Regions from separate parts of the Homo sapiens genome. Here regions 1 and 2 are each linked to region 3. The links come from fine-mapping of genetic effects on gene expression. A gene starts in region 3. Each other region holds a variant in brackets. All regions are shown on one strand. Distances are from middle to middle.

What was found.
Region 1: its variant is fine-mapped to the expression of PDPN in cerebellum (GTEx, PIP above 0.99).
Region 2: its variant is fine-mapped to the expression of PDPN in skeletal muscle (GTEx, PIP above 0.99). The same link has a PIP of 0.9 or more in breast, esophagus muscle, fibroblasts, gastroesophageal junction, sigmoid colon and subcutaneous fat.

The regions. Positions count from the first base shown.
Region 1 is chr1:13,598,572-13,608,866 of GRCh38, forward strand. PDPN (podoplanin) reads left to right here. Exons shown (of 6, transcript NM_006474.5): 2 at 8,602-8,735. Among named protein-coding and RNA genes, the nearest start is that of PDPN, 20 kb to the left of the region's middle. The variant CCTGA/C (reference allele first, on the strand shown) is at 5,869.
Region 2 is chr1:13,615,836-13,626,130 of GRCh38, forward strand. It overlaps PDPN (podoplanin), which reads left to right. Exons shown (of 6, transcript NM_006474.5): 6 at 70-2,122. The coding sequence ends at 76. It also overlaps the pseudogene RNA5SP41. Among named protein-coding and RNA genes, the nearest start is that of PDPN, 37 kb to the left of the region's middle. The variant G/A (reference allele first, on the strand shown) is at 4,256.
Region 3 is chr1:13,578,950-13,589,244 of GRCh38, forward strand. PDPN (podoplanin) reads left to right here and starts at 4,883. Exons shown (of 6, transcript NM_006474.5): 1 at 4,883-5,151. The coding sequence starts at 5,085. RefSeq lists an enhancer at 4,786-5,324.

The DNA.
Region 1 (10,295 bases), 20 kb after region 3:
TCAACATCTCCTGGCTTCCCTTCACACGCCAAATGCAACTGAAACCCCATCCTTAAAACAGTTCTACCGAACCACCGCTCCACACCTCTCAGCCCCATCTCTGTCCTCCTCAGCCCCTCCACCTGGCCACACTGACCATCCTCCCTCCCGTGCAGCGCCCCATGCTCGTTCTGGGCTTTGGGGTTAGTTAGCACCAGCTGTTCCCCTATCTGGAACTCACCCATTCACTCAACAGCTACTTACCGAGTGCCTGGTATGTGCCAGGGATTTCAGACATTGTGGACATTGAGATGAGGCAGCCTTTATCAAGCTTATATTCCAGTAGGACAGACAAGTAGCGAGCAGGTAGCAGGGTGGGGGTAAGCATTCAGGTATATGTGCCGTGGAAGAGGGGAGGGGTACTCGCTTAAATGGACAGTCCAAGAAAGTGCCCCCCCTCCTTTTTTTTTTTTTTTTTGGAGATGGAGTCTCGCTCTGTCACTAGCCTGGAGTGTAGTGGCGCAATCTTGGCTCACTGCAACCTCCGCCTCCAGGGTTCAAGGGATTCCCCTGCCTCTGCCTCCTGAGTAGCTGGGACTACAGGTGTGCACCACCACGCCTGGCTAATTTTTTGTATTTTAGTAGAGACGAGTTTTCACCATGTTGGCCAGGATGGTCTCGATCTCCTGACCGTGTGATCCACCTGCATCAGCCTCCCAAAGTGCTGGTGGGATTACAGGCGTAAGCCACCATGCCCGGCCAGAAAGTTCCCTGAGATCTGAAGGCATGAGGGAAGCTATCTTGATGTGTTCGAGAAGCTATCTTTTTTTTTTTTTTTTTTTTTTTTTTTTTTCAGACAGAGCCTTGCTCTGTCACCCAGGCTGAAGTGCAGTGGCGCAATCTCAGCTCACTGCAACCTCCACCTCCTGGGTTCAAGTGATTCTTGTGCCTCAGCCTCCTGAGTAGCTGGGATTACAGAGGCCCACCATCACGCCTGGCTAATGTTTGTATTTTTAGTAGAGACGGTTTCACCATGTTGGCTAGGCTGGGTTCAAACTCCCGACCTCAAGTGATCCGTCTACCTTGGCCTCCCAAAGTGCTGGGATTAATAGCTTATCTGATGTGTTGCTTATTTTTTTATGGTGACCCCACCCCACTCCAAGAGTACTCTAGTCCTTAAGAGTGGAGATCTTCCTTACCTATTCACTTCTCTGTCTCTAGTGATGAGAATGTGGCCCAGCTCTTGGCAGGTGCTTGGTAAATATTTGTGGAAGGAATATAAATGCTGGGAGCTGGGGCTGTAGAGGTGAACTCATGCAGGCTTCAGTCTTGGTTTTTGCTGCTGCCTTAACTTGCACAGTTAAGCGGGGAGAGGGCTGCTGCTGCTCAAAGCAACACCTCCTTTAGAGTGAGTCATACCTTCCTTCTAACCTGCCATTGCTGAAAGTTTAGATTCGTCCAGATTTCTCCTAGTAAGGGGACACACTGGAGGAGGTCAAGACTGTGGTCATTAAATAAGACTGGAAGATTCTAACAAGATGGGATTTCATAAGAGGCAGTGAGGTACCAGGGGAAGCAATTGTTCCTGACTACCAGGAACGTGATTTCTGGGAAGATGAGGATGGCACCTGGGCAGAAGGGGAAGGATCTCAGAACCCAGGGAGGGAGGCAGCAGGCATTTTAGCCCAAAGCTGCCGGGAGAGCACATCACGAAAATGCACAGCTGCTTTTTAGTTGTATGTTGGTGAGTCCAGGGATGCGGTTAGAATATTTGGCTTTGTGTCCGCTAATGAATCATGAACTTGGCACATCACTTAACTCTTTTTTTTTTTTTGAGATGGAGATTCACTCTTGTCACCCAGGCTGGAGTGCAATGGCACAATCTCAGCTCACTACAGCCTCTGCCTCGGTTCAAGCGATTCTCCTGCCTCAGCCTCCCAAGTAGCTGGGACTACAGGCCTGCGCCACCATGGCCAGCTAATTTTTGTACTTTTAGTAGAGAAGGTGTTTCACCACGTTGGCCAGGCTGGTCTTGAACTCCCGACCTCAGGTCATCCACCTGCCTTGGCCTCCCAAAGTGCTGGGATTATAGACGTGAGCCACCGCGTTGGGCCACATCACTTAACTTCCGACCTTGTTAAAGAAACACTAATTCTGACACTTGTTGAAATTGTACGGAAGACTTTAGTCAAGACCCCTGTAATAAGGGGCATTGCAGTAGGGAGGAGAGCTCAGGTTCACCTCTGGGTGAAAGGAAAAGTGGGGATTTGTAGCCCACAAGCAGAATGAGGGGATCAGTGGGTGGAAAATTCCTAAGAGATGGGGTTGGGGGGACTCTTGCTAAACTGGCCTAACAAGATTCTTTGTGAAGGCAGGCTAAGGGCCTAGCCACCACAGCGCTGTTGTGAAATAAAGTCAGCTGGGAGACGCCATGTAAACCCTACATTGTGAGTAGCAAATGTGAGAGGGTGTTAGGACAATGAGGTGTCTTCCACGTTAAGTGGAATTTACAATGCTGCGTCAGTGCCAGATCTTGAACGACCCCAAATGCACCTGTTTGAATACTTACTTTTCCTCCTTGCCCTAAACACTGAGTTTTATTCTAGCTACTCCCTGGTCACTGATTTAACTCAGCAGCTGTCAGCTGATGTGAGGAGGAAGAGGGAGCTTACAGTGAAGAGAGCACGGATTTAGAAACAGCTTCTGGAGACTCTGCAGACAGAGGGCCCATGTGGAGTGGGGATAGTTGGCAGTGTCCAGGCCACTTAAGCTGGGCCTTGTGCTAAGTTTCTCCTGTAACTGTGACATAGTATTTGTTTGTTTTGGGACCATGTCTTGCTCTGTCACCCAGGCTGCAGTGCAGTGGCACAATCTTGGCTCCCTGCAACGTCTGCCTCCTGGGTTCAAACGATTCTCCTGCCTCAGCCTCCTGAGTAGCTGGGACTGCAGGCATGTGCTATCCTGCCTACTTAATTTTTGTATTTTTAGTAGGGACAGCATTTTGCCATGTTGGTCAGGATGGTCTCAAACTCCTGGCCTCAGGTGATCTGCCTGCCTTGGCCTACCAAAGTGCTGGGATTACAGGCCTGAGCCACTGCACCCAGCCATGACATAGTATTGGAAAGAAAAGATTTGTCTCAATGACAGCTGGTTTTGAAGCAGTGGGGAAAAGAGGATTTATCAGGGTGATTGGCTAATCTTTTGGGGGGAAATTATATTTCTCTTTTATTATAATACTTCAAAATAAACAGACAAAAATATTAAACGTAAGTACAATACCATAAGGAAAACATAGGTGAATATTTATGTGATCTTGAGGAAGAGTTTGTGAGTGTGATGTCAAAGAGAAAACAAGTTTAAGAAGTTTGACTACTGATAGCTTGGTCATTTGCAAAAGAAAGATGTAGGCCGGGTGCGGTGGCTCATGCCTTTGGGTGGCTCATGCCTTTGGGTGGCTCATGCCTTTGGGTGGCTCATGCCTTTGGGTGGCTCATGCCTTTGGGTGGCTCAGCACTTTGGGTGGCTCAGCACTTCGGGAGGCCGAGGCGGGTGGATCACAAGGTCAGGAGATTGAGACCATCCTGGCTAACATGGTGAAACCCTGTCTCTACTAAAAAATACAAAAAAATTAGCCGGGTGTGGTGGTGGGCACCTGTAGTCCCAGCTACTTGGGAGGCTGAGGCAGGAGAATGGCGTGAGCCCAGGAGGCAGAGCTTGCCGTGAGCCGAGATCGTGCCACTGTACTCCAGCCTGGGCGACAGAGCAAGACTCCGTCTCAAAAAAAAAAAATGCCAGCAGCATTTAGGCCAAAGAATACATTCTTAAGGTATGAACAGTGCTTATAAGAGGGAATGCCATGTGACCATTACAAAAACGGTCACAAAAGAAGACAAATGGATGAAACAACTCGCTCCACAAATCAAAGAAGTGTAAATAAAACCAGAAGACTGAAATCACTTATTTAAAAGATTTTTATTAAGAATTTGGACTATTACAATAACAGCCTGATTGAATGTTACATCTAAACTCAAAAGTACTTCTTTTTTTTGTCTCCCAGGCTGGAGTGCAATGGTTCAGTCTCGGCTCACTGCAATCTCTGCCTCCTGGGTTCAAGTGATTCTCCCGCCTCAGCCTCCCCAGTAGCTGGGATTACAGGTGTGCACCACCATGCCTGGCTAATTTTTTTTTTTGTATTTTCAGTAGAGACGGGGTCTCACCATGTTGGCCAGGCTGATCTTGAACTCCTGACTCAGGTGATCCACCCGTCTCAGCCTCCGAAAGTGCTGGGATTACAGGCGTGAGCCACCGTGCCTGGCCAACTCTAAAGTATTTTTAAAGAAATGGCAGGCTGGGCACAGTGGCTCATGCCTGTGATCCCAGCACTTTGCAAGGCTGAGGTGGGAGGACTGCTTGAACCCAGGAGTTTAAGAGCAGCCTGGGCAATGTAGTGAGACCTTGTCTCTACAAATATATATATATATATAAAAATAAAATGAGATGTCATCTCTATAAATACAAAGGAGAGAGAGAGAAAAAAACAGAGAGAGATAGAAAGAAAGAAATTCTGTTTAAAAAAGAAATGCCCACTTTGGGAGGCCAAGGCAGGCGGATCACCTGAGGTCAGGAGTTCGAGACTAGCCTGGCCAACATGGTGAAATGCCATCTCTACTAAAAATATAAAAATTAGCTGGGCGTGGTGGTGCACACCTGTAATCCCAGCTACTTGGGAGGCTGAGACAGGAGAATCGCTTGAACCCAGGAGGCGGAGGTTGTAGTGAGCCGAAATTGTACCATTGCACTCCAGCCTGGGTGACAAGAGTGAAACTCCATCTCAAAGAAAAGACAAAAGAAATGCCATCCTGTAATGTGTGCAATCTAGCGAGTTATTAGACATGAATGCAAAGATAAAAGTTATTCATAGTTAGTGATTTCATATAAATAAGCATTGCTTACGTTTATTTGTTCTCAAAAATTAAGAACCCCAAGTGACAGTTGATTTATCAAATCATCTTCTCCTAGGAAATAGAAACTTCAGCCTAGCTTTTTTTTTTTTTTTAAGACAGAGTCTCACTTTGCCACTCAGGCTGGAGTGCAGTGGCATGATCTCAGCTCCCTGCAACCTCCGCCCCCCGAGTTCAAGTGATTCTCCTGCCTCAGCCTCCCGAGTAGTTGGGGTTACAGGCACCTGCCACTGTGCCAGGCTAATTTTTGTATTTTTAGTAGAGACGGGGTTTCACCATCTTGGCCAGGCTGGTCTTGAACTCCTGACCTCGTGATCCACCCACCTCCACCTCCCAAAGTGCTGGGATTATAGGTGTGAGCCACCGCGCCCAGCCCTGCCTAGCTTTTTTAAAATAATCACAACAACAACAAATTTCAAAGTAAGTGGATCGTTTGCTGCCGCATTTGGAAACTTCCACTGAGCCGTGTTTGGCTGAGGCTGGGTGTGGCAGGAAAGGGTGTTTATGTGAGCACGCTGGTACACCACTCCAGAACTGAACCTGCAAGCTAGGTTGTGGGTATTGGTTTATGATGGCAAATTCGTCACTCTACACTTGTAGAAACAATTGTGTGTCTGCACATATGTGCATCCCTGTATGTGTGTGTGTATGCGTGTGTGCGTGCATATGTATGCCTGTGCATACATATGTCTTGGGGAAAAGAGGATTGGAAAGTGAAGGCATCCATGATTTGAATTTCAGGAGGAAGGGGAAAAGACATGAGATGCTGGCTGGAAACTCGGCAGCTGGCCTAGTAGGAACTCTTCACCCAGGGAATCCTTCAGCCAAGATACTAAGAGGGACAATTGGGGATCTCTTGTTAAAGTTCAGCTTTCCCATGGAGCAAAAAGAATGCTAGGGCGGTGAGACAAAAGACATGCATCTTAAT[CCTGA/C]CTATCATTCATAAAACGCCTTTTGTCCATTCAGAGCGATTTTAGTACTTGGCTCTGTGGGCCAAGGGTAGAAAAGAACAAGAAGGAATTTTTATAAAGTTACGCTTTCAATGAACTGAGCTTTCTATGAAAGAATTCAATCTAATTTCATTGAGCACTTGATTTTTTTTTTTTAAAGCAAGGATTGTTTTAAGTTAGATACACCAAATAAGTAAGTGATTGTACTAAACCGCTCCAGAAAACGTTTTTAAAATTGATGATTTGTTAACTAAGTTCAAACCAGGTGAGGAAGAAATAAAATGGGAAGCTTAGTAAGTTTTTTAATAAGGACTACTTGTCTGGCAAAGGGATATTTCCCATTGAGCTCAATAAATACACAGTAAGCGTTTGCCTACACCACAAGTCATACATTTTTGTAGGAGCCAATCACCAACCCTCACCTCTACCCCTACTCCAGCAAAAGGCCACATGGAGAGGCAAACCATTTGCATGCATGGAAATATTCGGTTATTGCTAACTGGTAAACCCCTCGCTGTACACCCCCAGATTAAAAAAATGTGTAGGTAGCTCATCCAAAGCCATCTCTACTGGATTAGGACTCTAGAATAAAAGAGCAGGCTCATAGAACAAGTGAACTAACTTCAGAGGCTTCCTCTAGGCATCAAAGAAGCTATAATCAAATATTTATTAGCTGTGCCTCTGGCTGGGCTGTCTAAGCAGTGGGGAGAATAAGGTATCTTAAGGCAAGGAATGGATTGCTGATATAAGTGCTGTCTAAGCAGTGGGGAGAATAAGGTATCTTAAGGCAAGGAATGGATTGCTAATGTAAGTGCTGCCTAGAGACAAACAAACATCTGCTCTTTCATTACACAAAGAAATTTCCAAGCACCTCCCTCCCCCTCGCTCCTGGGATGTGTATGCTTGTTTATTTTGCAACTGTATTTAGTCATGGAATTTCCAGAACCACTGGAGTTTAGGGAAGAAGCCCATGGCCAGTGAGTCACATTTTTAATGCACAAAGAGGGTTGTTTGGTGATTTTTGGAGATGATAATTGAGCATGGTCATGACTAGTTTGGGTCACTGCAACAGAAGTTGAAGAAGAGGATACTGCTGTTATCTGCTCTATCTCTCATTGTAGAATTCAGCCTGGTAGTCCACTCCAATTCCCTGCTCCAGCAGAAACCTTTTTTTTTCTTTGAGACGGAGTCCTGCTCTGTCACCAGGTTGGAGTGCAGTGGTGTGATCTTGGCTCACTGCAACCCCCACCTCCCATGTTCAAGCGATTCTCCTGCCTCAGCCTCCCAAGTAGCTGGGACTACAGGCATGCAACCCCATGCCCAGCTAATTTTTGTATTTTTAGTAGAGATGGGATTTCACCACGTTGGCCAGGATGGTCTCGATCTCTTGACCTTCTGATCCGCCCGCCTTGGCCTCCTAAAGTGCTGGGGTTACAGGCGTGAGCCACCACACCTGGCCCAGAAACCTTTCTCATTGGCATGACACATCATTTGTCCAAATGTTAATGCGGAAAAGCCAGGGCCAAGGGCAGTTCATTAGTTTGGCTCTTTTTTTTTTGGAGATTGGGTTTCGGCTGGAGTGCAGTGATGCGATCTCAGCTTACTGTAACCCCTGCTTCCTGGATTCAAGCAATTTTCCTGCCTCAGCCTCCTGAGTAGCTAGGATTATAGGTGCCCACCACCACACCAGGCTAATTTTTGTATTTTTAGTAGAGACAGAGTTTCACCGTGTTGGCCAGGCTGGTCTCAAATTCCTGACCTCAAATTCCTGACCTCAAATGATCCACCCACCTTGGCCTCTCAAAGTGTTGGGATTACAGGCGTGAACCACTGCACCCAGCTAGTTTGGCTCTTGGTGTACTAAGTGTTCTGTTGGTGTCTTGGCATCCCTAAGCATATTACTGACCCTCCCCTGTAGACAGTAATCTCAACTGTAAAGTAAGAGGTAAAACTCCATGTAATCTACGAGGTCTGTGGTCAGAGCCTGTGGTTCTAATTGTCCAAGTGAACAGCAGTCTTAAAATTAAATGGAGAGAGAGTTTGCTTTTAAAAAGATGGAAGTTGGGTGTGGTGGTGAGCACTTGTAGTCCCCGCTACTTTGGAGACTGAGACGGGAGGATCGCTTGAGCCCAGGAGTTTGAGGTTATAGTGAGCTATGATTGTGCCTCTGTACTCTAGCCTCAGCAACAGAGGGAGAGCCTGTCTCTTAAGAAAAATTAATTTGAAAAGGTAGAGAAAAAAATAAAAAAATAAAAAGATGGAGACCCCGCTTTTGCATCGGGTCTGCAAAGGGGTGTGTTTAGAAATCTTTCCTGTTGACTCTAATTTAGAGTTTTTAGGTCCAGATGAATATATTAATTCATCATATGAAATGACACCAGGAAGAATCTGGTTCCTTATTGAAAAGGAAAGATGTACGTCCCCTGTCCAGGCCACCTCGATGGGGCCCCAGGGAGGGGCTGGCTGCTCTACCTTTTAATGTTTTCATTTTCCTTTGCTTTGCAACGGAGATAACCAGGGTGTTGATGTGTCAGAAGTGCTGCAAGGAGAATGGTTTGGTTTCTGGCACCACAGTAAGCCACAAAAAGGACCAAAAATAAAACAAAAATTTCCAAAAGAAATGGAAAAGAAAATAATCCGAATGTAGCCGACAAGTTGGGTCTGCTTATGCAATTTCCACCTTAAGCTCTGACTCAATCTTTCTTCTTCAGCCAGCACAGGCCAGCCAGAAGATGACACTGAGACTACAGGTTTGGAAGGCGGCGTTGCCATGCCAGGTGCCGAAGATGATGTGGTGACTCCAGGAACCAGCGAAGACCGCTATAAGTCTGGCTTGACAACTCTGGTCAGTGTCCTGGGAAGAGAGGAATTTTTTCCGTAGGCATGTGATCACATGCAAGGCTATGATGTATATTAATTTACTTTATATAAAAATATATCTATCTATAAAATCAGCATGAGCCACCATACCAAGGAATAGTTACGTGGCTCAACAAAGAAGAATAAGTCCTCACTTAATGTTGTTGATAGGTTCTTGGAAACTGTGACTTGAAGCAAAATGACTTAGAAAGAACCAACATTATGTGAGGACCTGCTGCATGTCATTTTCCTTAAAGTCGCAGTTTCCAAGAATCTATCAACAACGTTAAGTGAGGAGTTACTGTCTTTCCCAATTTCGTCCACTTAGCTGGTGTGCTGATCACAGGTGGTTGGAGAGTAGAAGCCAGAGCTTCTCAAATTGGTAAAAGGAGCCAGGATTTTACATTTCCAATCTGTTACAGCCCAACTTTCAATACAATGAAAGTTTTCTTGGGTGTTGTGGCAATGTCATTGCTATAAAGGGTTCTAAATATATCTTCTCAGCCGGGCGTGGTGGCTCACACCTGTAATCCCAGCACTTTGGGAGGCTGAGGCAGGTGGATCACCTGAGGTCAGGAGTTCGAGATCAGCCTGACCAAGATGATGAAACCTTGTCTCTATTAAAAATACAAAAATTAGCTGGGCGTGGCTGTGTGCACCTGTGATCCCAGCTGCTCGGGAGGCTGAGACAGGAGAATAGCTTGAACCCGGGAGGTGGAGGTTGCAGTGAGCCGAGATCGCACCACTGCACTCCAGCCTGGGCAACGAGAGTGAAACTCCGCCTCAAAAAATAAATAAATAAATAAGTCAGTCAGTCTCAATTTGTTTTCTCACTATAGACTGGTAATAAACAGGACTAGAATCAGTCCACAGACCACAAGATGATAGACTATTTAGCCTCTCGACCAACACATTCTTAACCTGATGAATTTTAATTAACTCCTCATATGTGTTACATACCTACCATAGACAAGAGAAGGTGCCAGGCATTGGGAGGGATTGAGGAGGTCAATGAGCCACATCCTCGACCTTTGAGGGAATCTATGATTTCTTTGGTAACAGAACGGAGGTTCCTGCCTGCCTATCTGACCTGTACACCAGCATCTCCTTAACTTTCTCTTTTTCTGCCATCTTGGCCTTTCTGACCTTTGAACACACTAAGCTTGTTCCAACTTAGGCTTTGGTTTTCTCTGCCTAGAACACTGCCCAGATCTTTCCATGGCTGACTTTTCCTTATAATTCTCAAGTTTGATGCCATCTCAAACAGCCTAAAGTAATCTCACCCCCACATCTGTTGGAAGTAAAGCTCAGAGTCGCAGAGAAAACGAACACTTAAACAAAAGATTTTTCACCAAGGCCAATTTATTTCTGTAGAAGGTTGTTTCTCGCAGGACTGGTTGTCACAAGAGCACACCGAACAAAGGCGGGAAAGGGTTTTTTTATTCTTAATGCAGTTTGTCCCTACTACTGTGTCCATTGGCTGGAGTTGGACAGCACAATTTAAACTGAGCCCGATTGGCTAACTTGAAAGACAGTTTTGGCGGGA
Region 2 (10,295 bases), 37 kb after region 3:
AGGACTCACGGAGTTACTATTCACAATGCCAGTAAGAGACACGACCGTCACCCTTCTCTATTTTCACAGGCCCTAAAGAGCTGAAGGGTTACGCCCTGCTGCCAACGTGCTTAAAAAAAGACCGTTTCTGACTCTGTGCCCTGTCCCTGAGCTCGTGGGAGAAGATGACCCGTGGAACACTTGCCTGGCCCACTCAGAATCCACGGTGACCTCTCCGCTTGCCAAAATAACCGAAGGAAAGACCGTTCACCAGACTTGGCTCCTCTAAACATTTGCTGTTCAAACATGTTTTTGAATATACATTCTATAAAAGATTATTTGAAAGACAAAATTCATAGAAAATGGAGCAAAACTGTATAAACTGATTTGTAACTAACACTGGACCATTGGATCGATATTATATGCTGTAACCATGTGTCTCCGTCTGACCATTCTTGTTATTGTTAAAATGCAGAGGAATCTGGAAATATTTATATCCACGGAGTCCTTGGATCCAGTGCTACGTCAGTAAATAGCACCAGCATTTTGCAATTGCTGATCTGCTGAAATGTACACATTCTGGTCTAGTTTGGTCTATCTTTTAAAGCCTGATCTGGTGTGAATAATCAACTAGGAAATCTAAACTTGGATAACACGTGGTGAACAACTGCCTTTAGCTGGTCCAGATTAATCATTTCAAAGACATCCATTTTAGATCACAAGCAGGAAGTCGATAGTCTCAAAGGCACTTTGTTTCTCCCAAGTAGGCCACCAGGCAGCCTCTAGAGTTGCTTTACCCAAATCCTTCTCCAGCCATGACTTGGTGACTCTAAGCTTGCTCCCACCTGCCCCCTCCACTTCCCTCAGATGATGAGGAGCCAGGGCTAAGGGGGCAGCCTTCTCTCTTCCCAGTGATGCACATCCTTCACATTGGCTGCTTTGTTCTGGAATATGGATATCTCAGCCTGGATGCCGAGGAAGCTGCTGGATGCTTAATGGTGCTAGAGGCTCAAGTGTGTTTGAAACCAAGAGCCAGTTGTCCCCCATGCAGAAAGAAATCCTGTGTGAGCCTCTGGTATGAGAAATAAAATCTGCCAGTTTTATAACATTCACTTTCTGCCTCTGAGGAAAGATACAGGGAACAAAAATCAATTTGTACAGTCTTAATATTAAAAGCAGCTTGACTAAATACCTGATTTAAAAATAGAAGACATCCCCAGTCCTCATGACATACCGCAAATATCTGTGGGGTCCTGTTGAAAAGAACAAAATAAAGGAGCCCAAGGGGTCATTCTGTCTCAGCACCATCCAGCCTGGCACTTCTCTTCCCATATATCCATTGGATTTTTTTTTTTTTTTCCTAAACAAAGTTTTTACACTGAGCAGATGCTCTGTCATGATGGCGGTTGTGCAATTCTGGTATCCTCTAAATTTGTAAGCATTCATAAAACAGGAAAAAGTAAACTATCATTCGGAAGCACAGCCCATTCCTCCCATTTTTTGCAATGATGTCTGGATGTTATTTTAAACAGTGTGTCTGTGTGTTCCCAAATCCAGCTGGCCCCACCAGCTCAGATTCCATTTTTTTTGTGTGTGTGTGTGAAACGTAGTCTGCAACTCTGCCTCCCGGCAATTATACATGTGTCAGGATGTCAAAAAGCAATTCTCCTGCCTCAGCCTCCTGAGTAGCTGGGACTACAGGTTCCTACCACCACACCCGGCCAATTTTTGTATTTTTAGTAGAGATGGGGTTTCACCGTATCGGCGAGGATGATCTCTATCTCTTGACCTCGTGATCTGCCCGCCTCGGCCTCCCAAAGTGCTGGGATTACAGGCGTGTGCCACTGCGCTCGGCCTCAGATTCCATATTTGAACACCAGCTGATTGAGAGAAGGGGAATGAGAAGAGCTGGATGAGTTTAAATAACTCATTGTTCAGATTCCTGAACAGGAGTTGGGATAATGGCCATCTTTTCTTTCCTATCCTTTCTTCCCCCCTCACTGTGAAAAATAACAGTCCACCCCAAGTCATACACTGGACCCAGTGCCTGCGGGGACAGGACTGTGGGTTTCTTGGTCACACCTGTGTTGGTGCTCAATGCAGTGTAGACATGTTTTCAAATAAAACAAATGATTGTGTACAACAATGAGTCAGACTTTTGTTGGAAAACACAAGTCTGGGCCACACTTGGGAACATCTCCAGATAAGATTACAACTTAGGTAAATGCCTGCCTGTTGCCTTGCTTGAGAGTGGATTATAGATGGCCAGGGGAATGAATTCCACAGGAGGAAAACACACCTACACCTTTCAGCTAGGTCTGCCAAAGTAGAGAGGTCAAGTAGAAGCATGGGCATGGGAGACACGTGGCACCTGGGGGCTCTCTCCCTCTCTGGTCCCAAAGGGTTAATGAGGTTTTCCCTGATTTTTTCTGTTTTGTTTTGAGATGGAGTCTCGCTCTGTCGCCCAGGCTGGAGTGCAGTGGCGCGATCTCGGCTCACTGCAGCCTCCACTTCCTGGGCCCAAGCAATTCTGTCTCAGCCTCCCAAGTAGCTGGGACTATAGGCGTGCACCACCACACCCACCTAATTTTTGTATTTTTAGTAGAGACGGGGTTTCACCACATTGGCCAGGATGGTCTTGATCTCCTGACCTCGTGATCTCTCCCTGCCTCGGCCTCCGAAAGTGCTGGGATTACAGGTGTGAGCCACTGTGCCCAGCCACCTGATTAATTTCTCAGCACTGGAGGGTAAAACCAGGTGAGGGGGCAATTTCATCTTGCCCCTGCTAGTCCTCCCTAGAAACCTCACCTCAGGAGAGGTGAATCCCTGTTGCTGGGGGACGCCCCACGGTTCCTTGCTCACCCCGACTCTGTCTGGAGATTGCCCTGGCCAGCTCCTGGGTGGGTGCTGCAGATCTCCTCCTCCCGACCCCACCGCACCACTCCATGTGGATTTATCCTCCTGATGCGGGTCCCTTCCCTGCCAGCGTAAGGATCAGGTGCTAGGAGCGGGAGAGCAGTTAGCCCCATGACTTCCTCGAAATAAATATTCAATATTGTTAAATTAGGACTGTTGAATTTGTCCGTTGTCAGTAATCCTGGGTGCCCATTTGAGTTCCAAACAAGGAACCATATTGTATGCCTGTAGTTCCAGCTGTTTGGGAGGCTGAGGTGGGAGGATCGTTTAAGCCAGGAGTTCAAGGCCAGCCTGGGCAACAAAGTGAGAGCCCCATCTCTTAAAAAATGGACCAGGGTTCTAGTCCTGTTCTGCTCCTCCACACCTGTAACCCTTCAGGGAAGTCATTTAACTTCTTTGGGCTGCAGTTTCTTCTAAGAACTTTCATGAGATGTCAGAAAGCATCCCTTTTCTAGCAGGAAACTAACCACGTCTACCTAGTCCAACAGATTGAAAGAGAACGGACCCTCAACTATGTTACATGTAAATTTACATTCCATTACATGCCACCCCCAGGAGATGACTGGAAACTGGGGGAGCTGCCAGGGTTCTGAAAGTTTAGGGAAACAGCTCTATCAGAGACATCTGGGAGCAGGGGGTGCTGAGGTTAGCTCTTTGCATGATATAAAGGCCTTGTTTTTAACCCCTACTTTTTCCCCTCAACCTGGGAAAACCAGTTGAAAAACCAGGGCTTAGTTCTGCTTCATGGGCCACCTTCAAGGCTTGGCTTTCATGAATAGGAAAGAGCAAGGAACTGTTAATCCCTTTGCTGTCTCTATTTTTATTTTAATTCAGATTTATTTAGTATTCAGGGCATGGGGCAGTTTGTGACATGCTTCGATTGGGGAATGGTGCACGTTTTGATATTAAAACTTTTGCCAATTAAAAGTCCATTGGAAGTGGAAAAAGAATCCTCCCCAAAATATAGCTGCATGTTAACACATGCACTAAAAATAGAGTCATCCCCTTGTGTGCGCTGGAGGACTTGTTCCCTGAAACATTGCCTTTTTCTTTGCTCTTCCTGAAGCTTAAAATCGGGTTAGAACATATAATAGATCCTGGATTTTTCAACTCAGTAAATATAAATGATGTAAGTGTGGTTATTGGTCAACAATGCAGAATGAGTCTAAAATCACACTCACTGGTGTGAATGGGAGTTTTTTTGGCTCAGGGGCCCAGCATGCAGGTACGTACCTGGTACAGGCAAAGCCAGCCTGAAAGCACTAAACACTATTCCTCAGCACTGTTTCTTACTCTGAGATTATTTTATCAGATGCTGACTCAAAGCACAGCGTGTTCTATTTCTACATCCAAGGGCTCC[G/A]GGCCATAGTACAGACAGTCCTATGCGTGGTTCTGAGACCTTGCTCCTCCTCCCATTTTTTCTTTCCTACCTCCTTCTCTACTGCTGCCTCTGCCTTTCCACTGATGCAAATTTTTGAGAAAACAATCACGTGCTGGTCACATACCAGGGCGATCAGCAAATGTTTCTGAAGTGACGGCTTCCCTCTGGATGCTGCTGAAGTAGTCAAAGAGGTCGTCTGAAATATTTGTTTGAATAAATGAGCTTACGGTCCTCCGCATGTAACCTCAGGAAGGTGTGCAGGTGTCCTGACCGAAGCAGGAGGTGGACCCCTTCCTGTTGCTCCTGTTCCCACCCTTCCACAGAGCATCTGTAGGTGAGGCTGGATCTGTGGATGGCCCAGGGCTCACTGGAAAGGGAGTAGGATTCTTGTCCAGCAAGATCCAGAAACAAAAGACACTCCCTTGGGTATAACTGCTGAAGAACTCTCATGGGACAGGAGTAATCTGTTCCTTCATTTATTTATTCATTCAAATATTTATGTTCAGGCCCGTCCCAGGTGCTGGGAATCCATAGTGCATGAAACCAACAAAAATTCCTGCTCACATAGAGCTTACATTCTAATGCTGGAGACTGCAAAAAAAAAATAAGTAAATCATAAGAGTGTGAAAATGAGAGACAATGGAGAAAAACACAGCAAGGAGAGGAAGTTCAAGTTTGGAGGAGCTGCAGCATGGAGTCTGGGGTGGGAGAAGGCCTCTCTGAGAGTCAAGCCATGTTCCTGAAGTGGCACGGCGAGGAGTGATCCTGATGGGTACCTGAGGGAAAAGTATTCTGGGCAAAGGGCATAGCAAAGGTCTGAGGCAGGAGCACCCTTGGCATGTTTTAGGGAATGCAGGGAAGCTCAGAAGGCTGGAGCAGTCAGCGCAGGGGACCATGGTAGGAGATGACGTCAGAGAGGTGGAGTGCCCTTGGAAATGGGGAGCCATGGGAAGCTTTTGAGCAGAGGAGTGACATGATCTGACTTACATTAAAAAAAAAAAATCCTCACCTCTGGTTGGGAACTGGCCAGTGTGAGAATCCAAGCAAGAGATGATGGCAGTTCAGACCAGGATGATAGCAGTGGACGTGGTTTAAGGTGGTCTGGTTCTAGTGATAATTTGAATGAAGTCAACAGAATTATCTGATAGATTGGATGTGGGATATGAGAAAAATGGGAGGGTCAAGGTGACACTAAGGATTTTGACTTGGGCAACTAGGATAATGGAGTTGCTATCAGTTAATAGGGCAAGGCTGTGGATGCTGCAGGCTTGATAGGGCAGAGTTGGAGTTCTGTGTTGAACATGCAGAATTTGAGCTGAGTACAGATATCCAGCTGGGGGTATGAAGCAGGCAGTTGGGCACATGAGTCTAGAGTTTAAATGAGAGTTGACTGGAGACATAATTTGGGACTTGCTAGAACCTAACAACCATGATGCTGATGAGCTCACCATGGGCAGAGTATAAATAGAGAAAGGCAAGTCCAAGAACTGAGCTTTGGTGTACCTCAAGGTTAAGAGTCAGGGATATGCAGAGAGATCACCAAAGGAGTCTCCCACCATGGATTGGATGAAATACATTTCAGGATTAGCCATTCCTGTTGTTCTCTTCCGTACCATCTCACAGTCTTCTGATTAAAAATCCAGCTTCCGGCCGGGCACGGTGGCTCACGCCTGTAATCCCAGCACTTTGGGAGGCCAAGGCGGGCAGATCACGAGGTCAGGAAATCGAGACCATCCTGGCTAACACGGTGAAACCCTGTCTCTTCTAAAAATACAAAAAAAATTAGCCGGGCGTGGTGGCAGGCGTCTGTAGTCCCAGCTACTCGGGAGGCTGAGGCAGGAGAAGCACTTGAACCCAGGAGGCAGAGGTTGCAGTGAGCCAAGATCGCGCCACTGCACTCCAGCCTGGGCGACAGAGCGAGATTCCATTTCAAAAAAAAAAATAATAATAATAATAATAATAAATAAATTAAAAAATCCAGCTCCCCAAGTAGCTTAATACTGGAACGAGGGTGTCCTGGATAATGGACACAAATATTCCCACCACTGGAAAATATTATTAGTTGAAAATTACTAACTTGACATTTGGGGTTATAATCAGTTTCTTATGAGTTGATTGGCATGAGTTAGGTCCTAGGACCTGCTCAACCCCGGTTACTGTTATGCAACTAGGATTTTAAAACTATAAATCTTCAGGCCAGAATGATGACCACATCAAAATCCTCCTGCATGCTGGGCGTCCAACTCTCTTCCCTAGACAGCACTTCTATTGTAAGTCCCAACTATAATGGTTCCTACTGACCTCTCAGTTTAGCATCCATCCGCTGCACTGAGTTGCTCTGATCAAGCTTCCGAATGACCTCCTGTATGTCAATTCCAGGCCCTCTTCTTGGTCTTGTCTTCATTCATCCTCTGCAGCCATCAGCCCTGTTTTTGGTCCCCTTCTTGAAGCCGTCTTCTCTCGCTTGGCCTGCATGACATGCTCCCTTATTGGTTGCCCTTCCTGGTTCTCTGCAAGCTGTTCCACTGGCTCTTTTCTTCACTTCCCCCTCTTTGCTCACAGGCATGCTTCAGGCTTACTTTTTGCTTCTCTATGGTCTTTCCCTTGGAGAACTCATCTATTCTTAGAGCTTCAAATGGCATAAGCTCCAGAAGAGCAGGCATCTGTTTGGTTCTCGGCTACATCCTTGGTCCCTGCAGCAGTAACTGGCACATAACAAGTGAACAGTGCCTCCCCCTTTACATGTGCGCCATCAGCCTCCTAATTCAGATCCTCAAGCAAAATCTCATCACAATTGCAAACTTACATGCCCACATCCCCTCCTCCAATCTGATCTGCATTCTACCAATGGGATCTTCCTAAAATGTACTTTTTTTGTTTGCACATGTCACCACATTCTAAAAGTGATCCAGTGATTTCCTACAAAATAACTTGATGGTCAAGGGCTTCTACACTTTTTTTTTCCCTTAAGAGATAGGGTCTTGCTATGTTGCCCAGGCTGGATTTGATCAAACTCCTGGACTCAAGCAATCCTCCCACCTCGGGGTCCTGAGCAGCTGTGACCACAAGCATGCACCACAGCACCCAGTGGCTGATATACTCCCATCCAAGTACCAGCCAGGTCTGACCCTGCTTAGCTTCTGAGACGCATCCAGAATGGTATGGCCGTAGGCGCCGGCAGCTTCTATACTTTATCATGGGGCTGATATCACATTTGTACCTCCACTGTAGTCAAGTGAAAAGAGCATGGCTCTAGACCCTGGCTATTGCAGCTTTGGTTCCAGGCTGTCCTACTTCCAGTGTGGAGGAAATTGCTTAACGTTTTTACGTCATCGCACTCTTGATTTAAAGGAACCAAGACTCAGAAAGAAAGCATCTTTATGCAATGTTATGTGTTACATATATACACATTCCCATGTGAAAACATGGGAAATAAATCCTACGGGAACCCCCAAGCAACCACATAGCTCAGCCTACAGGAACTGAGAGTTTTCTACACAGCACTGGACTCTGGATTATCTTGACACCTCTACCACTGTTCTGGACAGTTTTCCTGTGCCCTGGTGAGTCTATTCTCCACTTTTCTTCCCCTGACTCTGTGACCTGAGAGGTTGACTTGAATAGACTACATCAACCAAGCTCTCTTGCTCTCAAGGTTCTGGTTGGGTTTGGCCAATGGAAGGCACTGAGAGGTGATCCAAGGGCAACAGAAGAGACAGGCTGAAGTATTTATTCTTCCGGCTTCTTCTCTGCAAGGCCACATGCTGCCAGTCATTGTGTTTTTCTTTTTTGAGACAGAGTCTCACTCTGTCACCCAGGCTGGAGTACAGTGGCACGATCTCGGCTCACTGCAGCCTCCACTTCCTGGGTTCAAGCAATTCTCCTGCCTCAGCCTCCCGAGTAGCTGGGATTACAGGCGCACACCACTATGCCTGGCTAATTTTTTGTAATTTTAGTAGAGACGGGGTTTCGCCATGTTGGCCAGGCTGGTCTCAAACTCCTGGCCTCAAGTGATCCACCCGCCTCGGCCTCCCAAAGTGCTGGGATTATAGGCCTGAGCCACCACGCCTGGTCCAGTCATTGTGTTTTTCTACCAAAAACCCCAGCTCCTGTTGGGTGGCCCTTTGCTTTTACCATAAGTCTCACCAGGTTCCAGGAACAAACTCCTCTTTTTGTGTCTTTAAACCTATGGATGCTAAGGGCTTCTTACGATCACTAACCTTCAGGTGCTTCACCGTCCCTTTTTGGTTTCCTTAACCCTGTGTTGCCACTGGCAAACAGTTCCTTCATCCAACTCTCTGCCATCACTCTTTTGAGGGTGCCATGTGTTTCCTGCTGGCACCCTGACTGATAAAACCACATGGGCATGTGTTGGTGGCCAATATTAGGGTGATCTAGCCCTTCACGTTTCTTCCCTTTGTGATTCCTACCACTACCAACCAATGATTTATTTTCTGCTCTGAGCATCTATTCTCTACTTCCTGGTTTCTGCTTATTGGTAATGTCCACTGATTCACCCCTTAAATCGCACATGGACTCTTAAGGCCCCACCCTGCCTCCATGGCCTCTCTTTGTGTATTCTCTCAGCTTTAGCCTTGGCTACCAGCAGACTGATTCACTCTACATTTCCGGGACTTCTGATGTCTAAGGAAATCGGGTTGGCCTGGCTGGTCACCATGGCCTCTGTTGGCCAGAGCTTCCTGTGCCAGGCCCCAGGTCACTGCTTACTGCAGATACCCACTCTGCCCCCGCAAGTCATTGTCCGTTCCTTGTTGACAGGGGTAGCTATGGGAAGATGAACGCCTGAAAAGGTGTGAAAAATAATACTCATATCACAAAGTTTTTATCAGCTTTAAAGTAAATAATGAATGCTTAATGCCTGTATGAAAACACAGAGACTATTCTGTAATTAACACAATTATTCCAACAACCACTTCTTACTTCTATTATTATAGTCAGTTACTCTTATATCATCCCTGTGAAGCAGGCAGGGCAGAAATTATTTCCAATTTACAAGTGAAGAAATTGAGATTCAAAGAGTTACGTAAAACTAGAGTTACCCAATGCCCGAAGTACAACCAGGATGCAGGTGTCTTTATTTGTTCTCCATCCCTCTTTTGTTTAGTCCACTTGTCCTTTTCTTTTCTTTTCTTTTTTCTTTTTTCTTTTTTTTTTTTGAGACAGAGTTTCGCTCTTTTTGCCCAGGCTGGAGTGCAGTGGAGCAATCTCGGCTCATTGCAACCTCCGCCTCCCGGGTTCAAGCAATTCTCATGCCTCAGTCTCCTGAGTAGCTGGGATTACAGGTATACGCCACCAGGCCCGGCTAATTTTGTGTTTTTAGTAGAGATGGGGTTTCACCATGTTGGCCAGGCTGGTCTTGAACTCCTGACCTCAGGTGATCCACCCGCCTCAGCCTCCCAAAGTGCTGGGATTACAAGCGCGAACCATTGCGCCCGGCCCCACTTGTTATCTTTAAAATCAGTTGTCTCCCCATCAGCTCAACAGTTGTGCATTTCAAAGACATCATTTCTGCAGCCAGTGGGGAATAGGGAAGTTCTTTCTTTATTTATTGAGATGGAGTCTCGCTCTGTCGCCCAGGCTGGAGTGCAGTGGCATGATCTCAGCTCGCTGCAAGTTCTGCCTCCCGGGTTCTTGCCATTCTCCTGCCTCAGCCTCCCGAGTAGCTGGGACTACAGGCGCCCGCCACCACGCTCGGCTAATTTTTTTGTGTTTTTAGTAGAGACAGGTTTTCACCGTGTTAGCCAGGATGGTCTCGATCTCCTGACCTCGTGATCTGCCCGCCTCGGCCTCCCAAAGTGCTGGGATTACAGGCGTGAGCCACTGCGCCTGGCCAGGGAAGTTATTTTTTAAATTATAAAATATTTTAAACATATAGAAAACTACAGAGAGTAATGAAAAAGCCTCCTATACCCCACCGTCTGACACTAGCAAATCTTAACATTTTCTTGTATTTTCCATATAATTTTTTTTTTAGAAATAAAAACTTATTCATGTTATC
Region 3 (10,295 bases):
TCACTTACTTGTTTCGTCTTTGGCTGATTGTACATTACATGTCATTGACTCCACCTCCAGCCTCAGGCTGGGCTGAGGTTCTTTCATGGTGAGGGTCTTCCGGTGGGCTAAGGAAAATTACAAGCTTGACTTTCACAAGTATTTATGGAGCAGTGGTAGAGGCAGAGGCCAGAGAGAGACAGAGAGAGAGATAGCTCTCAAAGCTAAGCTCCTGGCTTTGGGAGCTTAGGATATCATCAAAGGGGGCAGAGATAAAGCATAGCTGGGAACACATTGGGCTCAATCCTTTAACTACAGTGGGGTGGCATGAGACAGCCCTATTGCTGGGAGGAGATCCAGCTCCGCAGGGGTACAGGGCAGGGGCCTTCAAATGGTAGATGCACACAGATTTCCCCAGAAGAATGCCAGCAAGGATGGGTCCAAGGGGATCAATTTCCAATGCCTCAATGTTCCTAAGTTTTCTTCTATTTTATAATTTTTTATTTTTTATTTTGTAGAGACAGGGTCTTGCTATGTTGCCCAAGTTGGTCTTGAACTCCTGGCCTCAAGCAATACTCTTGCCTTGGCCTCCCAAAATGCTGGGATTACAGGCATGAACCACTGCCCTGGCTCCTAAGTTTTCTTTTCTTTTTTTTTTTTGAGACAGAGTTTCGCTCTTGTTGCCCAGGCTGGAGTGCAATGGTGCCATCTCGGCTCACCGCAACCCCCGCCTCCCAGGTTCAAGCGATTCTCCTGCCTCAGCCTCCCTAGTAGCTGGGATTACAGGCATGTGCCACCACGCCCGGCTAATTTTGTATTTTTAGTAGAGATGGGGTTTCTCCATGTTGGTCAGGCTGGTCTCAAACTCCCGACCTCAGGTGATCTGCCTGCCTTGGCCTCCCAAAGTGCTGGGATTACAGGCATGAGACACCACACACGGCCCTGGCTCCTAAGTTTTCTACTGAAACTTCTGGGAAAATGTAGCACCTTCCCAATAATCCAACCCCAATTTACAAAAAAACAAACAAAAAAAGCAGATTCTTATCCATCCCATATCTTCTTATGGAGCATTTCCTGGGGTGAAAAAAATCTCTTTAGTCCCAGGTTGGCAGTGTGAAACTGTCTTTCCCCGTGCCGTCCAGAAAACCACCAGGATGGCTCATATTAGAAAGGCTAATATTAGTGGCGATGTCAGTTTACAAATGAGAAAGAGACTGTCTCCAGCTGGACCAAAGGTGCTGTCTTCAAAGACAGCAGGTTGAGTTTTCTGCCTTCCAGGGCCTGTGTTCCTATGTAGCAGGTTTGAAGGAAAGGCTGTCCATTTACACGAGGGGAGTCATGTGCGTGCACGGTGGGTAAACATGCTTGTAACTTACATCTCATGTTCACTTCGGAGCGGGGTTTTAGTTAAAATGAGGTGGCATTTGGTTCTTTACGTCAAAATGTGAACTATAGGACACAAAGACAGTTCGTATGCATCCTCTCTCAGCTGCTGAAACTGGCTTGAGGTGTGCAGTAGCTTATCAGGAGAGAATGTTTGTAAGGCCAGTCCTCTGTCCAGTCAGAGTTGTAGCGGTCTGGGTTATAAATCAGAATTTTGGTCCCACTCAAACCCGTAAGTGTGTTACTTATTCCTGGGCCATAGAGCTGCCTTTGCTGTCAGAGATTCAGTTGTGGGTATCTCAGCTCTGGAACATGGCATATTGATTTTTAAAGTTATTATTATTATTATTATAGAGTAAGGGTCTAGCTCTGTTACCCCAGCAGGAATGCAGTGGCATGATCATGGCTTACTGCTGCCTTGACCTCCTGGGCTCAAGTGATTCTCCCAACTCAGCATCCTGAGTAGCTGGGATCACAGGTACGTGTCACCACACCTGGCTAATGTTATTTTTATTTTTTATAGAAGCAGGGTCTTGCTATGTTGCCCAGGCTGGTCTCAAACTCCTCACCTCAAGTGATCCTCTCGCCTCTGCCTCTCAAAGCATTAGGATTACAGGTATGAACCACTGCGGGTTGGGGGGCTGGTGTCCCATTGTGTGTTGAGAAGCATCTTCCCAGCCAGGTCAGCCCAGGCTGCCTGGAGCAGCTCAGCCAGGTGCTCTCTGGACTCTGCAGAGCCCTCAGAAAAACACAGAGCTTGAGGAGACCCTGATGTGTCATCTCCAGCATCCCCCAGGGTGGAAGGTACCAAACTGGCAGCTCTGGCTCAGCTCCTCATTCCACTGCTGGTCCACACCTTTTGGGGGTCCTCTTGCTTCCTAAAAGCAATTTACAGACGTTTCCCACACAGTCCTGCAAGGCACAGGCACAGTGCTAGTAACAGGCTCAACTCCTGCTCTGCAATGGAAATGCATGACCCCACCGCTCCTACCTTGTAGGATCCCACACAATTTGCATGGTGGCCTCTAAACCCACAGTCCTCAAAGTGGGGACCCAGGACCAGTAGCTTCAGCATCACCTGGGAACTTGTTGGAAATGCAAATTCTTGGGCCCCACCCCTTACCTATTGAATCAGCACTTTGGCAGTGGAGCCCAGCAGTCTTGCCTTCCAGGCAAGCAAGCCCTCCAGGTGAATCCACTCTCAACCTCACTTGTGTAGGAAATGGGTATCATCAATGTTTGGAAGCCAACCGTTGTTTTGGGGCTGAAAGGAAATAGTGCGTGTTCCTGGCAGGAAGATAAAGGCCAGTATGTAGCAGCTGCTGTTATCTCACCAGTAACGCATCATCATTCATGGCCATGGCTTTCTGAGCTTAAGCTGTTTGCCAAGAATGGAGCCACATACCCTCCTTCTTTCCCTCTTCCCCTCAGCTGAGCAGGGTCTCATGCTTCCAGATCCCCTGTGTTTCACTTCAGCTCCTTTAGCTAACCGAGTCTCGCTGCCCAAGGCCCATATTCCTTCTCTCATGAGCTGCTGGCTCTATCTGGTCCAGGAGGGTGAGTTCTTTCTTCCCTCTGGTCTTCAGGTTCCCCCTCCCAAGACCCAGCTTTTCTCTCTAGGTTTTCAGACCAACAGCACCCAGAGCCGATCCACTAACTCCTTCATCCTGGCCCCTCTCCCCACCCCAGGACCCCCAGCTGAATGCAATTCCTTATTACCTCCCACTCCTCCATCCTGATCAAAAGGTCATGTGACCAACCTTCTAGATTCTAGACACATCCGGGGGTGTGGGATAGAAGGCAGGTGTCCTTGAATCATGACCTAGCCTCAGCATCCCTCTAAATTAGTTGCATGTAACCCAATCTCCCCCACCTAGGCTTCACTGTGTTTCAATCTTTTTGAATAAAGCGGGCCATCTTTCTTTCTGTGTGTGACCTTGGAGTTACACATAAGCAGAATAGATGTGCATCTATTCTCCATCTAACAGGCTCAACAGACAATGCACTATTCCTCCTGTCAACAGACATTATTGACACTAGAGTCATAAAATGCATCTCCAAGATGGGGAAGTCAGTTCAAGAAAGAGTATCTGTATCACGAGTTTTCTCTTTACATTTCCAACTCCTTGGCTCTAGGGGTGTTGCCGCTACCCCTCATCTTCTAGGTTCAGGTGCTCAGCTCCTGTTTGTAGCCCCAGGACAAGACGTTACCTGGGAGATCTTTAGAAATGCAGAATCTCTCCCTATCCCACAACAGAATTGCACCTGCATAACCAGTGCCCCAGGTAGATCTGGCTGAGAAGCTATGATGAAGGGCAAGGTTTGCCAAATGTTCATGGGGACAAGTTCTCCAGCGACACTGGTTTAAAATAGGAATTCCGAAAAGGTCTGATTAATGAGTTTGGGGTGGAACCCAGGAAACTGGGCATTTATTTAAAACAATCTCTCCTGTGATTCTTAGAAAGTAAATTTATAATGGGGAGGGGTCAAAGATAAGCATCTGAAAACAATTTTCACGCAATGTGGAGCTTTGAGACAGCGTTAGTCTTCAGGTTCTTTTGTTGAATGGAATTTGTGGCATCTGGGAGTGGAGCAGAGACCACTTCCCAAACTCCTGTTCTTATTTTTTTAAATTCCAGCAATTCAGAAGGAATTAAAGTAAAAGACGTAAGTTCTCTGGTTGCTGATATCTGGTACCTGAGATCAAGGCAAGATCGCTTAAACCAGTAAAGTGAGGATTATGGGAGCAAACTCAGGAATAAAGAGGGTGAACCAGGCCTGGAAGGGGACACAGGTTTGGCGACCAGACGGGTCACCGCTTGGCCCGGCCTAATCCAACTGCGCACGTCGGTGGGCCACAGCATCGCAGCGCTGGATCCCCGGGTCGGCAGAGGCGGATGGAGTTCAGCCTCTTTTTCAAAACTGCCAAAGCCACCCGGTCTGCCAAACTCCCCCACCAGCCAGCTCTGGGGCAGCCCCCCGGAGCCCGCCCGCTCCGGTCCCCGGGACAAGGGCGCAATTGACCAGCGCGGGCCGCCTCTGGCCCACCCAGATGACGGCCAACTTTTTTTGTTTTTAAGCCATCAAATTCAATATTTACAGGAAAAACCCCATGCTTGGTTCTAAAACTACTGGCCACTCAAGAAACAGTTTACTTCTCACTTCTGCCCATAACAAGAAAAACATAGACTTGTGCCTTACTCTTAAAAAAATAATAATAATAAATATAGGTTTTTTAAAATTTATATATAATTTTTAAAACCCCGTTTGTTGCATGTGGTCCCTTTCCCTCCTGTTGTTGAGCAGAATAAAAGCCCATTTTGCCAGGGCCCGCAGTCCTGGCGGCCCCCGCAGCTGCGGCCCTGTAACTTTAAACCTGGCCTGAGATCATCGTTTTGGCGCCGGCCAAACAGAGCCCGAGGGCGGGCCTAGCGCGCCCGGACGGAGACCACCTTGCGGCCGACCCCGCTCCCCCGCCTCCTCGGGAGAGATAAATGCTGACTCCGCTCGGAAAGTTCTCAACTGCAAAGTTTGCTGTCCGGCTGCCTAGGGTCTGGGAAGCTCGGGCACCCTCCCTCTCCGGGGCTCCTGCTCCCACCCCTCCGGCCCCCCCACCGTCGCGCTCCTCCAGGCTGGGCCTGTGGCCGCGGTGCTTTTTAATTTTCCCCCAGCTCAGAATCTTGCTGCTCGGCCCCCAGGAGAGCAACAACTCAACGGGAACGATGTGGAAGGTGTCAGCTCTGCTCTTCGTTTTGGGAAGCGCGTCGCTCTGGGTCCTGGCAGAAGGAGGTAAGACCCAGCGCAAGTGGCTTCCTGCCGTCGCTGATGGGGACGAGCGAGCAGAGACTTGCTGGAATGCCCGGGCCTGGTATTCGAGGTTGTCCAGGGGAGCGCGGGGGAGCTGAGGGTGTGTGCGTGTCAGGCGGCTGAGCGCCGGAGGAGGAGAGGCAGCGGCTTAGTCGGTGCCAGGTCCCAAAGACGCAGCTGCGCGGGTGTGCCGGGAGGAGCCCCGGAATCCACAGGCTGCGAGGTGGGCAGCACAGGGGGCCTCCCTCCGAGTCGGCAGCACCAGAGAGATCGGGTGGAAGGTTCACAGTAGGCAGCCCCGCTTGCTGGCAGCAGTGGCTGGGGTTTCCTTCCCATAGAGCGGTGTGTTGGAGGAATACGCACGCCTCGGGAGAAGCTGGCCTCGTAGAATCAGGAGGGACGTTCAGGAGGGCTTGGGCCAAGGGGAGGGTTCCCCGCCCTGCGGTGGCCCTGGTCCCCCTTGGGACTACCTAGTCTGGCGCCCTGCCTGTTGGACACACTCAGCACCCCGTCACTGGACTGGAAGAGGCCTCCTTTATCCTCTTTAGAGAGGATAGTGTGTGTGGAAAGGATCCAAGTGGAGGCTTCCGAGGAGTGTGAGTGCATGAGGATTGTTACGCGTTACGAACATTGAGGTTTAAGTGGGTTTGAGCCACGTGTTCATCTTGGGCAACAACATCAGTGGCTGAATGTCTGTTGGTGACTCCTTAGGCTTTAAATATTTTGTATCCCATGTTGGGGTGGGGGCGTCCACAGCTTCCATTACCCTTTGTCCTCTCCTGGAGCCTTACCTCTTCCCGCTGGGTTGCTGTGTTGGTGGTCTCCATTGACATCTGTCAACATTTTGTTTTCTTTTCTTGGGTTTTTATTTTTATATTTCCTCAATAGAACATATGTTCTGCAGGACGCAGCTACATCCAGCCATGATTCCCCACGGCCAAAACAATGCCTGGCACATAGTAGTTGCTCACTAAATGTTGGTTGAAGGAATTGTAACCTAACTCGTGATCTTTGGGGCTGGAGGTTGCTGAGTTATGCTGTGAAAAGTAAACATTTTCCAAAAATTGAGGATCAAGGTAGGCCTAGGCCCTGAGGAATACTTCTTGGAGAGGGAGCGGTTTGCAGGAGGGGTGCGCCTAACCTGGCCTCCTACAATGGTCCACACAGACAAAAATACCCAATCTCAGGGAAATGACAGAGTTCTGCTCTATGCTGTGCTGTCTGCTTCAAAGGGACTGAGCAACTCTTTTTATAGGGGCCGTGGGTTATTCGTAGCAGTCCTATCTTTGGAACTTCTCTTTCCACTGGAATATATACAGTTCTGTATTTTCAGTTACATTTCCTTTTTGGCGAGACAATGTGCAAATGACACCGTTTTGTGCTCACCAGGGCAAAGCAAGGGAGCGCCCTCACTTCAGCATCTCAGCCCTGCTAAAGAAAAAGCTGCTGGGTAACATCCTTTGTTTTTGCCCAGGGAAGCTTTAGCTGTGATTCCCTTCAGCCGGCTCCTGAATGTCAAAGGTACTCCTAAAAGATGGCGTTAAAACCGAAAAACCATCGTTGGTGCTGGAAACTCCACTACTAAAGAAAGAAGTGGTATGCGGGGCTGGCTGAGTGAGGGTGGGTGCTGAGTTGCCTGGCTGCCAGAGGAGCAGAGGCCCAGCAGGGTTTTTGTCTGAGAATAATGAGCGAGGCGACTTGAATATGGATGAATAACATCATTGAGCGAAGCTATTGTGGGCTTTTGTTGGGGAGCTGGGCTGGGGGGTAATTATGGTGATGAATTTTATGATCCTTTTCATAAGATCCTACGCCCTACTGGGTTTCCCTCCTCCAGGGTTATAATCTGGTTCAGTTTTATAATCTGGTCCCATGTGTCATCCCTTTGGGTGTTAGTGGATTCAAAGGAGGTCTGTTGTCCACACATCTGGCATTTTTTTCCATTGTCAGGCGCCACCCTCATGCTGAACTTTCATCAGGAAGGCACGTTTTGGGGGCCACTTCATTAGAGAGTTTATTTTGTGAGATTCTGCAAGCTGCTGCTCGCTGCTAACCCACATGTGCTTTTCCGGGACCAATCCACCCAGGATTAATCATGCGGCCAACAAATTTCCCTGTGATTTCCCCGAAACGCTTGCCAGTTTGGAGGCCCTGAAATCCTCATGAGTTGTTAAGAGTTTTTGTTGCACTGAAGGCACTTAATAAAGATCAGGTCTGTTAGAGGCTTTGTGAGGGAGGCCTCTGCATTGCACTGGTGTATAAGATCCAAAATAGCATTGAATATAGAAAAGCACAATTTAAAAAATGTGTCCGGGCATGAGAAGGCTAAGTCTGGACGTGGCCAAAGGGACTAAACTCCTTCCTTTCTTTGGCTTCTGTAAAATGAGCAGCACGCGAGTGACTCTACACTGTAGAATTATAAGGACCTCAAGCCTTGGCAAGACAGTGGAGGGTCAGGCCAAAGGACACAACCATCCTCTCATTCCCATCGCCTGCCATGTGCTAGGAATATTGCTAGCTACTTCTTTCAATCATCATAATACCTGTAAATTACATACTCTTATCTCGGAATATACCAGAACTGGGTTTGAAAAATATGTCTAACTTCAAACCTGAAGATCTTTTTACTACACTACTCTGCCATTAAAAAAAAAAAAAAAAAAAAGAGGCTGGGCATGGTGGCTCACGCCTGTGAGGGGCCGAGGCGGGCGGATCATGAAGTCAGGAGTTCGAGACCAGCCTGGCCAATATGGTGAAACCCCGTCTCTACTAAAAATACAAAAATTAGTTGGGCATGGTGGTGCGCGCCTGTAGTCCTAGTTACTTGGAGGCTGAGGCGGAAGAATCGCTTGAACTCGTGAGGCGGCAGTTGCAGTGAACCAAGATCACACCACAGCACTCCAGCCTGGCAACAGAGCGAGACTCCGTCTCAAAAATATATATAAAAACAAAGTAAAGAGGTTGAACTTGAAATTAAAGGTTAACCTCACTTTAAGCCTCTTAAACGTAGAAACAAAATTTTCTAAAGATACGAGAATTCCTTTACATTAAATGCTCCCCATAATGTTCTTTTAAGAATGAAATTGTCATAATACATTAAAATAGGATTTATTAATTCATTCTGCAAATAGTTATTAAGCATTTCCTGAGTTCTTGGTGTGTTACTAGATGCAGAATTTGAACTGTATGCACTTTTGAGAGAGGCACACCTCACATGCTAAAGTGTGCCCTGCAGTCCTCACCAGCAAAGCAATGAACATGCACTTTCAAATTCCATCGGCTTATCTGAATATTTGTCATATTTCTGGCTTTGGAAAGGAGGCAGGCCAGGTTATAACTTGTGGAAATACGACGGGGGAGGAGGAGGAGGAGGGAGAGAGAACTCAACTACTCAGGATTACCCTGGTGAAATTTATTTGACGAATCTGAATCAGATGCTGTAGGGCTTTTCCAGGAAGCCTTGCCACTCTTGGTGCCCCAAAACTTCTCAGGGAAGTACCCAGTGTGCACGTTTTATTGAAGAGAATCAACTGATGGAGGGTGCTGGACACTTCCAAGTGGACAGTTACTGTGATGAGTCTTAGGATTCTCATTTGCTGGGCAAGAGATACAGCTCCGTGATTAGGCATTTTATCTGGGGCTGTGAGCTAGAGCCCCGGTAGGGAATAACTGGAATTCTGCCAATTCCATCCAAGGCAGGAAAACAAGGTGACTGTTTCCTTCCCACATGTCTAACCCCAGCCCCTGTCCACCGGCCTGTTGGCAGCCAGTCAGATGATGGCAAGCTCCCCTGAGTGTCAGCCGAAAGAGGTAGGAGGGCTCACCCTCCTTTTTGTCTGGCTGAGTGTCTTTGCCTTGAGAATTGCTCAGAGATGGATTTGTCCTTTGAAGTGAATCAAGCTAAGTCCAGGGGGAAGTACGCAGGTATGGCCAACTCGTTCATGTAGTTTTTTGAGGAGCTGAAAGCTGACATTGTGAGGCAATGCTAAATTTCATGAACCCGCCCCCCCAAACACACATACACACACACACACACCCCTGGAGAAAGATGTGATGGGCTCTTGACCCCCATCCAGAGAGGCCAGGCCACAAAGTGCCGTAGGCAATAGAGGGAGACCAACCCTGAGCCACTGGGGTAACAATCACCATTGTTAATGTTTGCAGCATGTACAAATGCCAGATACACAGAGTGTAAATGGGAAGCAGGAAAGGGGCATGCTAGAATATTTTTAACATATTATTGATGAGAACAGGGCACTTCCCACAATTCATCAGGGTGTCTCCATCCGGGAGAACAGAACACAACTCATTTAAAAAGCTGTGATACAGCGAATATTGTCCTGCCCCAAAGAGAAGGGAATCAGTTTGCCTAGAAGAGGAGAAGAATGAGAATTTGTTGATGTTTAAACCTTCCCTGCCCAAAGAATTAACTGATTTAACAAATATTTTTATTATATATAATATAAATATATAACTATATATTATATATTTACATATATAATATATAATATAAATATATAACTATATATTATATATTTACATATATATAAAATATATATATAATATATGTATTTTTTTGAGACAGGGTCTCACTCTGTCACCCAGGCTGGAGTCCAGTAGCACTATCTCGTCTCACTGTAGCATTGACCTCCCAGGCTCAAGCGATCCTCCCACCTCAGCCTCCTGAGTATCTGGGACCACAGGTGTGCACCACCACACCCAACTGTTTTTGTATTTTTAGTAGAGATGGAGTTTCACCATGTTGCCCAGGCTGGTCTCGAACTCCTGAGCCTGCCTTGGCCTCCCAGAGGGCTGGGATTACAGGTGTGAGCCACCATACCCGGCCAACAATTCATTGAATAGCTACTATTCAATAAATATTTATTGAACAGCTATTTATTGAATAGCTACTGTGTAAGTCAGGCAGTGGGGAACAAGGCAAACCCCATCCCTGCTTACCGTTAGTAGGAAAGGTGTCATATGTGGTGACTGGGGATATTCTGATCTCAATCAAGGTGGTTCTGTGATGAATCAGATGTCTTTGTTTTGTCACAGTCTGGAAATTTATTCCACCCGACAGCTCCACCCTTTGCTTTTGTTGTAAATACAAAAAATAGCATCTTGTG